2 linked regions of the Homo sapiens genome follow. The protein of the gene in region 1 interacts with the protein of each later gene in a biochemical or structural test. Each region holds a gene or a part of one and is shown on either strand. Other genes may lie near its edges.

Region 1 (7,614 bases):
GGTGTTTCCTGGAGGCCTGCGCCACTCAGCTTCCTGGCAGAGGAAGGAGCGTTTCCCTCATCCTGGCCCGGGTCCCGGGTCCATCTGCTCCAGGAAGGCTCTGGTGGCTCGTGATGAGCTGCCCTGTGAGAGGGAACAGGGTAGAGGCAAGGCCTTGGGGGATGGCCTCTGCCTGGATTTCATGGGGAAGGATGCAGGGCCAGGGCTGACATTTTGTCAAATCCAAGCAACTTTGCAAAAAAGTCCTCCTCTCACGCTCCGCCCTCTGGAATCGAATGCTTCACTGTCCTTCCCTGGCAGAGGGCCTGGTCCTGTGAGGGTTACATGGCCAGGCGGTTATCTCCGTGCTGGGTGCCTGATGAGAGCTCAGTTGAATGTTAGCCGTTGCTGTTTCCAGGCTAAACTATTGTCTTTTTGCATGATTTCTTCTGCACAGAGTGTTGGTAGCTTTCATCAGATCTTTGTAGGGTCTGTGACCCCCAAACCGTTCAGGACACTGGCCTAGACTCTAGGTGTCTGTGAGGCCAGAAGCCCCTGGATGCATCTCTTCCTGTCAGGGCCTGCGTCCCTGGGGCTCCTCTCTGCTGAGCTCTGGGGTTTCACGCTTGCCCTGCCAGCGCCGACGTCCCTGCCCGGGGTCTGAGCTGTCTCTCCTCTCCATCCTCCAACAGACCGCAGAGGCCGAGACTCCGTCAGAGCTGTGAGGGAGGCCCGGGCCAGATGCCAGCTTGCCAAGGAGGCCGATTAAAAGCAGCCTTGCTGGGGGCGGATGGCTCAGTGCCCTTGGCCTGGTGTAGAGTTCGATAAGCAATTGTTTTCCTGTTGGTGAGAAAAAAACAAATCTCCATTGACTTTCCCAGGCACTGCTCAGCCTCATTTTCTTCTCAGGAACTCTTGCAGCCCTATCAGAGGCAGCTCTAGGATAGGGGAGAGACTGACTGCCTGCCCTGGGGGACGCAGGCCACACAGCCAGGGCTGAGGGACACACTTAAGAGCAGGCCAGCTCGCTTGGACATTGGTCCTCGTGGGAACATTCCAGAGCATAGGCTACCTACCAGAGCAGGCCATGGGCATCTGTATTAGTCCGTTTTCACGCTGCTGATAAAGACATACCCGAGACTGGGCAATTTACAACAGAAAGGTTTAACTGGACTTATAGTTCCACTTGGCTGGGGAAGCCCCATAATCATGGCGGAAGTCAAGGAGGAGCAAGTCCGGTCTTACATGGACGGCAGCAGGCAGCGAGAATGAGGAAGATGCAAAAGCGGAACCCCCTGATAAAACCATCAGATCTCGTGAGGCTTACCACCATGAGAACAGTATGGGGGAACCCGCCCCCGTGATTCAATTATCTCCCACTGGGTCCCTCCCACAACACACGGGAATTATGGGAGTACAATTCAAGGTGAGATTTGGGAGAGGACACAGAGTCAAACCATAGCATCCAACAGGTGTTTGTTGAAGTAATAGTTTTTGAGTACTTAACCACTTGCAGGGCATGATTCTGAGTGCTTGGTTCATCTAATCCTATGACTATCAGATGGGCACCAACTTTACAGGATGTCAATGACCTTAAGCTGTTGAACTTCAGGGTATCTTGAGTTTCCTCTTCTGGGACATAAGGACCATGAGAAGGAGAAGTAAAGTAGCAGCAGCTAGGGCCATAGAGAAATATCAAACTTGAGTTGTATTCTCTCATTGATGGGGAAACTGAGACAGGGACAGAGTTGATGATTTCTTTCTGAGATACAGTAAGGGGGAATGGGGGACAGAGAAATAGGAGATAAGACCAACTGCTCCCCTCTCCTGACCTCCTGCCCCGTCTGATCCCGTAGCATCCTAGGCCTTATCATCATAACTCCGATCATGGTTACAGGTATTTTCTTTCCTTTAAAACACTTTTTATTTATTTATTTATTTTAGATGGAGTCTTGCTCTGTTACCCAGGCTGGAGTGCAGTGGCGCAATCTCGCCTCACTGCAACCTGTGCCTCCCGGGTTCAAGTGATTCTCCTGCTTCAGCCTCCTGAGTAGCTGGGATGACAGGTGCCCAACACCACGCCTGGCTAATTTTTGTATTTTTAGTAGAGATGGGGTTTCACCATATTGGCCGGGCTTATCTGGAACTCCTAACCTCAAGTGATCTGCCTGCCTTGGCCTCCCAAGGTGTTGGGATTACAGGTGCGAACCACTGCATCTGGCCTGAATTTGACTATTCTAGATACTTCATGTAACTGAAATCTTACAACACTTGTCCTTTAGTATCTGGCTTGCTTCACTTAGCGTATGTCTTCACGGTTCGTCTGTGTTGTAGTGTGAGTCAGAGTTTCCTTCTTTTTTGTGGCTGTATAGTATTCTGTTGTATGGCTCTGCCACATTTTGTTTATTCATTCGTCTGTTGATGGACACTTGGTTATACCTTTTGGCTATTGTGAATGATGTTGCTATGAACATTAGTGTACAAGTATCCGTTTGAATCCCTACCTTCAATTCTTTTGGGTCTATACCTAGGAGAGGAATTGCTGGTTATATGGCAACTCTACGTTTAACTTTTTGGGGAGCCACCAGGCTGCCTGATTGTAGTTTGAATTTGCAGTTCTCTTACTGTGAGGTTGAACATCTTGCCGCATGATTGGACTCTTTGGCGTTCTCTTACCACACACTCTGTGTGCATGAGTCAGGCCCGTGTCAGGGCTGGGGCGTTGGGTTTTCCCTTTTGCCTTTCCTGTTGGGCTTTCCCTGCCACGTGCCTGGCGTAGTAGCTATTTCATCAGTTCTTCTGGAAGGACCGTTCCGAGAGCGCTGAGGGCCATTTTCTGCCTCTCAGCCAGATCCTCCAGGGAGCTCTGGCTTTCCGCTGTCTGTACCTTCCTCTCTTTTACCCCACTACCTCCCAATGTCATCGGAGATACCATTTTATTCATTCATAAAATCTCTGCTGAGCCCTCACTGTTTTCCTGGGACATCTAGAGAGACCCCCCCCCCACCCCGCCCTTTTTTTTTGAGATGGAGTCTCCCTCTGTTGGCAGGCTGGTGTGCAGTGGTGCAACCTCAGCTCACTGCAACCTCCGCCTCCCAGGTTCAAGCAATTCTCCTGCCTCAGCCTCTCCAGTAGCTAGGATTATAGGCATGAGCCACTACACCTGGCTTATTGTTGTATTTTTAGTAGAGACGGGGTTTCACCATGTTGGCCAGGATGGTCCAGAGAGACCCTTTGTGATGTGGGTGATTAGCATGGAGTGGCCATCATCCACAGGTGTCTGTCCACAAATGTACTCCCTGAATTCCAGTGGTACCTGTGACATTTGTCCAGCAGAATTTGTCAAACACGTTAAGCAAAGGTTAATGTTCTGTCCCAGAGACGGTAAGAATTGACAGCCTAAGGGGATGTGTTAATCTTTTTTATTTTTATTTTTTGAGATGAGTCTTGTTCAGTCACCCAGGCTGCAGTGCAGTGGTGCGATCTCGGCTCAGTCATTGCAACCTTCACCTCCCGGATTCAAGTGATTCTCCTGCCTCAGCCTCCCGAGTAGCTGGGATTACAGGTGCCCACCACCATGCCCAGGTAATTTTTGTATTTTTAGTAGAGATGGGGTTTCACCAGGTTGGCCAGGCTGGTCTTGAACTCCTGACCTCAGGTGATCCACCTGCCTTGGCCTCCCAAAGTGCTGGGAGGATTACAGGTATGAACCACTGTGTCCGACTTCTCTCTCTTTTTTTTTTTTTTTGAGATGGAGTCTCACTCTGTCATCCAGGCTGAAGTGCAGTGGCGTGATCTCGGCTCATTGCAACCTCCGCCTCCCGGGTTCAAGTGATTCTCCTGCCTCAGCCTCCTGAGTAGCTGGGACTACAGGTGTACATCACCACACTTGGCTAATTTTTGTATTTTTAGTAGAGATGGGGTTTCACCATGTTGGTCAGGCTGGCCTTGAACTCCTGACCTCATGATCCACCCGCCCTGTCCTCCCAAAGTGCTGAGATTACAGGCGTGAGCTGCCGTGCCTGGCCTTTTTTAAAAAATTGAGATATAAGTTCATGTAACATAAGTTGGCCATTTTGAAGTGTATAGTTCAGTGGCATTTAGTACGTTCACAATGCTGTGCAACCATTACCTCTATCTAGTTTCAAAACGTTTTGATCACCCCAAAAGGAAAACCTGTGCCCATTAAGCAGCCATTCCCCACACCCACTAATGTCACCACCCCCATAGTCCTAGGCAACCATTAGTCTACTTTCTGTCTCTGTGGAGTTGCATATTTTAAAAATTTCATATAAATAGAATCATATATATGTGACCTTTTGTGACTGGCTTCCTTCAGTTAGCATAATATTTTAGAGGTTCATCCATATTGTGGCATATACTTGATTCCCCCCGACCTTTTTTTTTTTTTTTTTTTTGAGACAGTCTTGGTCTATTGCTGAGTTGCTGAGGCTGGAGTGCAGTGGCATGATCTCGGCTCACTGCAACCTCCGCCTCCTGGATTCCAGCGATTCTCCTGCCTCAGCCTCCTGAGTAGCTGGGATTACAGGCACACGCCACCATGCCCGGCTAATTTTTGTATTTTTAGTAGAGATGAGGTTTCACCATGTTGGCCAGGCTGATCTGGAATTCCTGGCTTCAAGTAATCTGCCTGCCTTGGCCTCCCAAAATGCTAGGATTACAGGTGTGAGCCACCGTGTCCAGCCCTGACCTGCATTGTTAATGCCCAGCATTTAAAAATAAAAAGTCAGGCAAACTTATTAACCTCCTTAGGGCTTCTCTTGGGAAAAACAAAGGGAAGACCAGCAATAGTAGGCCCAGATTCCTGCCGAGCAACAATTGGCTTGAGCTGGAAGCAGCTGTCAATTCTGTAGGGGATATGTGTGCTCTATTTGGGGGTTTTCTTATACTTGTTCCTATAGGAATTGAGTTAGGAATTATTGTCATGGTATGTGAGAAGTGGTTCCAGCTACTTGGGAGGCTGAGATGGGAGGATCACTTGAGCCTAGGAGTTCAAGGGTACAGTGAGCTATGATCGCACCACTGTACTCCAGCCTGGGCAACAGAGAGAGGGAGAGACCTTGTCTCAAAAAAAAAAAAAAGAAAAAAAAAGAAAAAATAATAAAAGAAAAAATATAAGAAGATGCAGACTCTGCTTTTCTGTATAGACTCAGAGATCAGATCACACCATGTTTTGCAAGATTTTTTTAGGATGTCAACTGGAGGCAGGAATTAGACAGCAGCCTGGGCCAGGAGGAGAGGGGATCCTTTCCTGTCCCTGCCCGTAGGAGCTGGGCCAGCTGACCCTTTCTCTTTCTGCAGGTGGCTCCGCTGCCGGATGGGAGTGCCCCAGTGTGCTGGATGAAGCTGGCGCATGCACCATGTCATCATGTGTCTCTAGCCAGCCCAGCAGCAACCGGGCCGCCCCCCAGGATGAGCTGGGGGGCAGGGGCAGCAGCAGCAGCGAAAGCCAGAAGCCCTGTGAGGCCCTGCGGGGCCTCTCATCCTTGAGCATCCACCTGGGCATGGAGTCCTTCATTGTGGTCACCGAGTGTGAGCCGGGCTGTGCTGTGGACCTCGGCTTGGCGCGGGACCGGCCCCTGGAGGCCGATGGCCAAGAGGTCCCCCTTGACACCTCCGGGTCCCAGGCCCGGCCCCACCTCTCCGGTCGCAAGCTGTCTCTGCAAGAGCGGTCCCAGGGTGGGCTGGCAGCCGGTGGCAGCCTGGACATGAACGGACGCTGCATCTGCCCGTCCCTGCCCTACTCACCCGTCAGCTCCCCGCAGTCCTCGCCTCGGCTGCCCCGGCGGCCGACAGTGGAGTCTCACCACGTCTCCATCACGGGTATGCAGGTGCGTGAGCCGGTGGTGAGCCAGGTCCTAGGGGTCCCTGGTGCCCTTCCCTGCCCCCAGCAGGGCCTCTGTGGAAGGTTGGGCTCCCCCAGAAGGATCTGAGTGCCACGGTTGACCTAGGAGTTGACTCCAGGGAACCTTGGGGGCGGCTGGGGCCAAAAAGGGGCCCTAGGGGGGTCGTGAATCAGCATGGGGAAGGGAAGGCAGTCAGCAAAGGGTGGGTCATGGAGCCGATTACCAGTGTGGAGTGTGGGCCGCTGGGGCTTTTTCCTTCCGTGGGACCCTGGGGAACAGCACAGAGCAGCAGCCTCAGTCATCCCACCAGGGGCAAGGGAGCTGGGGTATTTATACTCATGGGTGAGGGCTGCTGGGGCAGGTGTGTGTGACCCCCTGTGGGTGTGGACAGAGCAGTTGCAGGGCCGGAGGGAGCCTCCAGCAAAGAGACTGAGGTGTGGGCGAAGGTGTGATGGAATGAGGCGGGTCACTGAGAGCCTGGCGACGACCCGCCTGGCCGAGCGTGTGTTGGCACCAGGCACTGGGTTCAGCACTTGCTGTGCATTTCTCACAGGACCCTTACCGTAAACCCTGCGGGGATACAGAGAACTCAGATCCTCACCAGGGTTCACAGGGCCCTGTGTGGTCTGACCCTTTCCCATCCCTCCTGCCATTCTGCTGCCAGCTCCCTAAGCTCCCTCTGTTCCTGCCTTCACATTCCTCGGAATCCAAGCTCTTGCCTTGGGTCTGTACTCTCGCTGTTCCTTCTGCTTGGAACCACCTCCCCCACCACCCCATGCCAACTTTGTAAGGCCTATTCCGATAATGTCCAAGTCTCAACTCCAGTATCACCTCCTCCAAAAGGCTTCCCGGGCCACCATCCCTAAAGCACCCTCCAGCCTCTCTCTGCCCCATGGCCCTATTTGCTTTCCTTCATAACGTTAATCAGCATCTGATTATCTGTGCGTTGGTTTAGTTGTTTATTGCCTGTCTCCACCCAGCCAGAACGTAAGCTCCATAGGATCATTTCATCCACCTCCACACCCTATCCCATCCCCAGAGCCTAGCACAGTACCTGGTGCATAGTAGGAGCGCAAAAATATTTGTTGAAGGAACGAATGAATTTAATTGGAAGAAGACCCAACATCAGGATGCCTTTCTAAAGGGGCTTTTTTTTGTTGTTGTTGTTGAGACAGAGGGTTGCTGTGTTGCCCAGGCTGGAGTGCAGTTGCGTGATTTTGGCTCACTGCAACCTCCACCTCCCAGGTTCAAGCTATTCTCCTCCCTCAGCTCATGAGTAGCTGGGACTACAGGTGTGCACCACCATGCCCAGTTAATTTTTTTTTTTTTTTTTTTTTTTAAGTAGAGATGGGGTAATGCCATGTTGGCCAGGCTGGTCTCGAACTCCTGACCTCAGGTGATCCACCTGCCTCAGCCTCCCAAAGTGCTGGGATTACAGGCATGAGCCACTGTGCACTGCCAAAGGGGCTGATTTTGAAGGGGCTATAGGGACTACATTTTGAAGGCCAGGAAAAACTTTCATAATTGGAGATGAAAATTGGGCCCTGGAGAGTTGAGAGGAGGGAGAATTCACAGCATGAGCCAAAAACAGAGCTAGGACCTATGAGCAATGGCTCCTTTTTAGCTTAGCTTCTTTCACAGCATCATGATTTTGAGATTTATCCATGTTGTGGCGTATATCTGTAGTTCCTTTTTATTGCTGAATAATTTCAATTGTATGGACGTACCACAGTTTGTTTATTCATTTACCTGTTGAAGGACATTTGGA
Region 2 (7,614 bases), on another chromosome or scaffold:
TCAGATGATGTTCTGCCATTTTGGTTTTTTCCCATGCTGTAATTTTTGCCAGCACCTTCCTTGTTGTATAGGTCTTCATTAAATATTTGTCAGGGCCGGGCGCAGTGGCTCACGCCTGTAATCCCAGCACTTTGGGAGGCTGAGGCGGGCAGATCACCTGAGGTCAGGAGTTCAAGACCAGCCTGGCCACCATGGTGAAACCCCATCTCTACTAAAAATACAGAAATTAGCCAGGCGTGGTGGCGGGCGCCTGTAATCCCAGCTACTCGGGAGGCTGAGGCAGGAGAATCGCTTGAACCCGGGAGGCGGAGGTTGCAGTGAGCCGAGATTGTGCCGTTGCACTCCAGCCTGGGGGACACGAGCGAGACTTCGTCTCAAAAAAAAAATAAAATAAAATAAAATAAATATTTGTCAGAAGAGTGAATGAATAAACGAATGAATGAGTGGATGGTTTGGTAAACATCAACATCAAAACATGTTGCTGTTGCTATTTTGTTCAATACAGTAGGCTTTTCAAAAGAAGTTATGGGCCAGAGGTCCTGGGGACTTGATACATTCGAGTATCAGTGGTTCTCAATGTTCTTTTGGTGCACTTGCAAGGTCAAAGCAGATGCTACTGAGGGGCCAGGTGTGGTGGCTCATGCCTGTAATCTCAGCATTTTGGGAGGCCAAGGCAGAAGGATCTCTTGAAAGCCAGGAGTTTGAGACTAACCTTGGCAACATAGCCAGACCCCCATCTCAACAAACAAACAAACAAAAAATTAGCCAAGCACAGTACTGCATGCATGTAGTCCCAGCTACTCAGGAGGCTGAGATGGGAGGATCGCTTGAAGGCAAGAGTTAGAGGCTGCAGTGAGCTATGATTGCACTCCAGCCTGGGCAGCAGAGTGACACCATGTCTTTCAAACAAAATGTTATTCGCCTTTTTTCTTCTCAGTCTTTCAGGAGTGACATCAGAGTAGGATGATACCATCATCTGAGAATTTATTATTGTGTTTTAAAAATTTCCCAGTTTTATTAGGTTGATGTAAAAGTAATTGTGGTTTTTGCCATTAAAAGTAATTGGCGTGGCACAGTGGCGCATGCCTGTAATCTCAGCACTTTGGGAAGCTGAGGTGGGCAGATCGTTTGAGGTCAGGAGTTCAAAACCAGCCTGGCAAACGTGGTGAAATCCCGTTTCTACTAAAAATACAAAAGTTAGCTGGGCATGGTGGTGCACGCCTGTAATCCCAGCTACTCGGGAGGCTGAGGTGGGAGGATCACTTGAGGTCAGGAGTTCGAAACCAGCCTGGCTAACATGGTGAAACCCCGTCTCTACTAAAAATACAAAAGTTAGCTGGGCAGTTAGCTGGGTATGGTGATGCATTCCTGTAATCCCAGCTATCAGGAGGCTGAGGCAGGAGAATCTATTGAACCCGGGCGGCGGAGGTTGCAGTGAGCCGCGATTACGCCACTGCACTCCAGCCTGGGTGACACAGCAAGACTGTCTCAAAAAAAAGTAATAATTTTTAATATGGCAGATGTTCATAGATATAACCCACATAAAAGCTAAAGGGATTCTAAGACCTAAATGTTTGAGAACCGTGGCATTAGGGGCTGGGAAGAACCACAGAGGTTGACCACCCTGGCAGGTCTTGTACGTGGGCTTACTACAAGAGTCACCACTAGCCTTTTGACCTGCCCTGAGGCTCAGGTAATTATCTCTGCCAAAGGGCACTGCAGTCACTGCAGCCCAAGCAGCTGCTCCCCTCTTTGGAGAGAAAGTCACAGATCCTTGAGTTTGGTTTTCTTTGGCTCTGCTGCTGTGAAGCAAGCCTCAGTCCTAGATTCTTTGACCAAAGGAAGAAAGAGTTTGGGCTGAGTTTGTTTCCTTATGATTCTGCTGAAAGTAAAAACCACATGTCAGTTTGTCCTGTGCCACAAAAGTAGCAAAATCACTTAAGGTCAGGAGTTCGAAACCAGCCTGGCCACCATGGTGAAACCCCATCTCTACTAAAAATACAGAAATTAGCCAGGCGTGGTGGCGCGTGCCTGTAATCCCAGCTGCTTGGGAGGCTGAGGCAGGAGAATCGCTTGAACCTGGGAAGTGGAGGTTGCAGTGAGCCAAGATTGCGCCATTGCACTCCAGCCTGGGCAACAAGAGTGAAACTCCGTCTCAAAAAATAAATAAAATAAAATAATAAAAATAAAAATAACAAAAATTAGCAGGGCATGGTGGCGCATGCCTGTCGTCCTAGCTACTTGGGAGGCTGAGGCAGGAGAATCGCTTGAACCCGGGAGGCGGAGATTGCAGTGAGCCGAGATCGTGCCACTGCACTCCAGCCTGAGCGACAGAGCAAGACTTCGTTTCAAAAAAAAAAAAAAAAAATCAACCACATTTGGCTTACTGTTTTGTGCTGAGGCTAGATGGAATGCCATGCTAAGAAGCATGGGCCTTATAGTACTTTAAATCAACATTAAAAAATAAACAGGCTGGCTGTGGTGGCTCATAGCTGTAATCCTAGCACTTTGGGAGACTGAGGTGGGAGGATCACTTGAACCCAGGAGTTCAAGACCAGCCTGGGCAACATAGTGAGACCCCCCCACCGACCTCTACAAAAAAATATTTTAAAAAATCAGCCTGGTGTGGTGGTGCACACTTGTAGTCCCAGCTACTCAGGAGGCTGAGGTGGGAGGATCACTTTGAGCCCAGGAATTTGAGGTTACATTGAGATGTGGTGATCACACCACTGCACTTGAGCCTAAAGGACAGAGCAAGACTTGGTCTCTTAAAAAAAAAAAGTAAAAATAGGCCAAGGGCGGTGGCTCACACCTGTAATCCCAGCACTTTGGGAGGCCGAGGCGTGCGGATCACAAGGTCAGGAGATCGAGACCATCCTGGCTAACACGGTGAAACCCTGTCTCTCCTAAAAATACAAAAAATTAGCCAGGCGTGGTGGCGGGTGCCTGTAGTCCCAGCTACTCGGGAGGCTGAGGCAGGAGAATGGTGTGAACCTGGGGGGCAGAGCTTGCAGTGAGCCGAGATTGCGCCACTGCTCTCCAGCCTGGGCGACAGAGTGAGACTCCATCTCAAAAAAAAAAAAATTATATAAAAAACAGTAAAAATAGAAAACACACTAGCAGTGTGTTTATACCATTGAATATCCTGCACCACTGTTGTGGGCACTACACCAGAAATAGGAAAAAATGTGATGATGAGCTGAGCTAATTGAGATGAGGGTTATGGGAATGGAACAGAGGAGTGATGGAAGAGATTTGGATCTTTTAAATTGGCAAACAGAAAAATAAGATTCTTTTTTTTTTTTTTTTTTGTTGAAATGGGAGCTTTGCTCTTGTTGCCCAAGCTGGAGTGCAGTGGTGCAATTTCGGCTCACTGCAACCTCCACCTCCCAGGTTCAAGCGATTCTCCTGCCTCAGGCTCCCGAGTAGCTAGAATTACAGGCACCTGCCACCATGCCCAGCTAATTTTTGTATTTTTGGTAGAGACGGGGTTTCACCATGTTAGCCAGGCTGGTCTCGAACTCCTGATCTCGTGATCCGCCCACCTTGGCCTCCCAAAGTGCTAGGATTACAGGCGTGAGCCACCGCACCCAGCCAAGATTATTCTGAAGTGTTGCAGTTAGGGATTGGAAACATTTTGAACACAAAGAATATTAGCCTAGTCCTTAATATTGAGTGAATGAGGAACGCAAATTGGAAGGGAGTCTATGTTGAGAAGAAAATTAAATGATATTTACTTTGAGTAGGGGAGGGGGAGGAAGTGTGGAGTTGGAGGAGTGGACAGTTGTCAGCTGAGATGCCCAGGTCTAGGAATGAGGCCTCTGGAAGCAAGGTCTTGGCCACCTGGAGGAGCTGGGGAGTTGGCAGAGGTGGTCATTTTGCATGTTACCACAGGGTGGTGCTGTTGGCTGCAGAAGGGGACATGGTCAGCTGCGCCCTCTGCACTGTAGTGCAGAGTACAGAGCGTTTTCATCCATCAGAATCCCAGGTCCTGGGAGAGTGAAACGTCTCTTCTCCAGTATTCCAAATAGGGTTCTGACGCCCCAGAAAGCAGTGATTATGAGCTTACCTGATAAGTATGAAAGACATCAGTAAATTCCTGAATCCAACTGTAACATAAATTTATTCACATCGTAGCAGTGATTTTATTACCACCTTGAAGGGAGCAGCCTAAAAATTCTCGTTCACCGATCACTTTCCTCACTGTGCTATCATCTATTAAAGTTTACTTTAAAATGCAAGATGATGTAGGAATTTCTTCTTAAATTCTTACCAAATAAAAATTAAAAACAATTTATAAATCCATTCAAATAAAAATTGATAATTATTCAATTCTTACGGACTTCTAAAATTTGCTACCATACATAGCTGTCTTGTGTGTAAAAATAACGTGGAGAAGAGACATTTGAGGCTTTTGATTTAAGAGCTATAAATCAGGACTTGGTCTGAAACTGACAGCTGATATTAGGCAGAAAGCTTATGTAATTAGGTAGTATTTGTGTGATCTTCCTGTTTGTAACAGCTACGGTCTGAGTAGCTTGTGGGTATATTATATAATTCCTTCCTTGGAGTCTTGTTGAAAAATGAAAGGACAGTAAGACCAAGACCTCTCAGGTTTGCTGACACTAAAAGTGTACAAACTGTGCCACAGGATCTTAGCCATCCAGGGCACCTTAAGTGTTTCCAAGATCAAGGTGCTGTTCTGAAACGTATCCTTCTAAGTGTCATGTGAGGCCTTAGAAAGAATGTTTATATGTGTGGCTTAGAGGAAAAAGGTAGAATGAATACTTTGTAAAAAGCTTTAAGATGAAATAACAATGAAAGGTATATAAAATCTTTGTTTTTAATCCTTATTTAGGACCATTACATACGCAATATGCTTGTGACCCTCCCTGAAGTTGGCCGTTTTCAGTGAATACATTTAAATAAAAATCTCAAGTTAGGACCTGCCAATTTGGAAAGACTTCATCAACTGACACTTCCATGTGGTTCTTTGCTTAAGTAGCTTTCATCACGTGATGCTAGTGCCTTTATATCTCACACTTCCAGGCACTTCACAGGCTATCTCCTTCAAGGACAGTGTGCTGTCCATTTTAATCCTACCACCTGGCATACTTGGGTGGATAGGTGGATGAACGAGTGTTAATTTCCCATTTTATTTATTTATTTTTTATTTATTTTGAGACAGAGTCTCGCTCTGTCGCCCAGGCTGGAGTGCAGTGGCACGATCTTGGCTCACTGAAAGCTCTGCCTCCCGGGTTCACCCCATTCTCCTGCCTCAGCCTCCCGAGTAGCTGGGACTACAGGCGCCCGCCACCACGCACAGCTAATTTTTTGTATTTTTAGTAGAGACAGGGTTCCAGCGTGTTAGCCAGGATGGTCTTGATCTCCTGACCTCATGATCCAGCCGCCTTGGCCTCCCAAAGTGCTGGGAATACAGGCATGAGCCACCGTGCCCGGCCTAATTTCCCATTTTCAAGTAGAAAATAAGATTACAAAAGAGCAATAAAATCCAGAAGTTCAGAGAGTACCAGTTGCCTTTAGCATGTAACTAAATCTTTCCTTTTACTAAGAGTGAGGTAAGAAGTTGAGCCCGCCCCAGTGATCCTCCCCCTCCTTTGGACTCCTGGTATATGTGGTCCCTGTTCTGGGGATGGGGAAGGTGAGAGAGGTGAGCACATTTTGTTTATCTGTGTATGCTCTGCTGGTATCAAGGTAAATCTTCTTGAGTAAATGGTTATTGAAGTATTTTGAGTTTCTGTGCTTTTGCCAGATGTGCTCAGCAAATCGTTTGTTATAAACATACTTTATCTCTCATACTAGGAAGTGTTTCATTTCAGAATCGTAGCTGTATGTTTGGTAAGAGCCTCTTGATTTTGAAGAATACTTTGCTGTTGCAGTTTTTGTTGTTGTTAGAGAAGGGGTCTGTGTTGCCCAGGCTGATGTTGAATTCCTGGGCTCAAGCAATTTTTCTACCTAGGCCTCCCCAATTGCTGGGATTACAGGCATGAGCCACTGTGCCAGGCACTATTGCGATTTTTTAAACATGGGCTTTTCTATATCTGCACTTAGATCTTTTTATTTTTATTCTTAGGTCCTACTGCTCTGTTGGCTCATGAAATAGGTTTTGGAAGTAAAGTTACAACACACCCTCTTGCTAAAGACAAAATGATGAATGGAGGTAAGTATATGCTTGTTTTTGTTTGTTTGTTTGTTTTTTGAGATGGAGTCTCGCTCCATCGCCCAGGCTGGAGTGCAGTGGCGTGATCTTGGCTTACTGCAATCCCTGCCTCCCGGGTTCAAGCGATTCTTCTCTCTCAGCCTCCTGAGTAGCTGGGATTACAGGCGCATGCCATCACACCCAGCTAATTTTTGTATTTTTAGTAGAGATGGAGTTTCACCATGTTGGTCAGGCTGGTCTCAAACTCTTTTTTTTTTTTTTTTTTTTTTTTTTTTTGAGACAGAGTCTCGCTCTGTTGCCCAGGCTGGAGTGCCATGGTGCGTTCTCTGCTCACTGCAACTTCCGCCTCCCGGGTTCAAGTGATTCTTCTGCCTCAGCCTCCTGAGTAGCTGGGATCACAGGTGTGCTCCACCACGCCTGGCTAATTTTTGTATTTTTTAGTAGAGATGGGGTTTCTCCATGTTGGTCATGCTGGTCTTGAACTTCTGACCTTGTGATCCACCCGCCTCAGCCTCTGAAAGTGCTGGGATTACAGGCATGAGCCACCGCGCCCAGTCTCGAACTCTTGACCTTGTGATCTGCCTGCCTCAGCCTCCCAGAGTGCTGGGATTACAGGTGTTAGCCACCGCGCCTGGCCCATATGCCTGTGTGTGGTTTTTTTTTTTTTTTTGAGATGGAGTCTCTCGCTCTGTTGCCCAGGCTGGAATGCAGTGGTGTGATCTCAGCTCACTGCAACCTCCGCCTCCCGGGTTCAAGGGACTCTCCTGTCTCAGCCTCCCGAGTAGCTGGGATTACAGGCATGTGCCACCACAAGTTTCTTGTAGACTGGGCACAGTGGCTTCCGCCTGTAATCCCAGTACTTTGGGAGGCTGAGGCGGGTGGATCGCTTGAGCCCCGAGTTCGAGACCAGCCTGGGCAACATGGTTAAACTCCATCTCTACTAAAAATACAAAAAACATTAGCCAGGCATGGTGATGCACACTGGTAGTTGCAGCTGCTCAGGAGGCTGAGGTGGGATGATCGCTTTAAGCCTGGGAGGTCAAAGCTATGGTGAGCTGTGATCTCGCCACTGAACTCCAGCCTGGAGGACAAAGCAAGACCCTATCAAAAAAAAAAAAAAAAAAAAGTTTCTTGTGTACCTGTAGAATTTTATCTATCACATACTCATTATCCTTTTTATTTTAACTAAAATGAGATCTACTAAATGTATTGTTCTGCAGCTTGCTTTTTTTAACTTAATGTTAATATCTTATGTTATCTTTTAACAGCACATGTAGATTTAGATTTGCTTCATCCTTGTTAAGTACAGCTGCTAGTCCAGTGTTGGAATGTGCCATGCTGTATGTAACCTTCTCCTGGGGGTGGGCATGAAGGTGGTTTTCTGCTTTTGCCCTTGTAAACCATGCCATAATGATCATCCTTGAATGCCGCTG

Evidence for each region. Proteins that work in one complex are often made in the same cells at the same time.
Region 2: the proteins of CAMKK2 (region 1) and PARK7 form a complex in vitro, tested with the Homo sapiens proteins (one study listed by BioGRID).

What each region holds. Positions count from the first base shown.
Region 1 is NC_000012.12:121,272,273-121,279,886, reverse strand, and holds part of CAMKK2 (calcium/calmodulin-dependent protein kinase kinase 2), read left to right. Parts: intron 1-5,301; 5' UTR 5,302-5,360; coding exon 5,361-5,831; intron 5,832-7,614. UniProt on the Homo sapiens protein: Calcium/calmodulin-dependent protein kinase belonging to a proposed calcium-triggered signaling cascade involved in a number of cellular processes. Isoform 1, isoform 2 and isoform 3 phosphorylate CAMK1 and CAMK4. Isoform 3 phosphorylates CAMK1D.
Region 2 is NC_000001.11:7,971,558-7,979,171, forward strand, and holds part of PARK7 (Parkinson disease protein 7), read left to right. Parts: intron 1-6,094; coding exon 6,095-6,181; intron 6,182-7,614. UniProt on the Homo sapiens protein: Multifunctional protein with controversial molecular function which plays an important role in cell protection against oxidative stress and cell death acting as oxidative stress sensor and redox-sensitive chaperone and protease.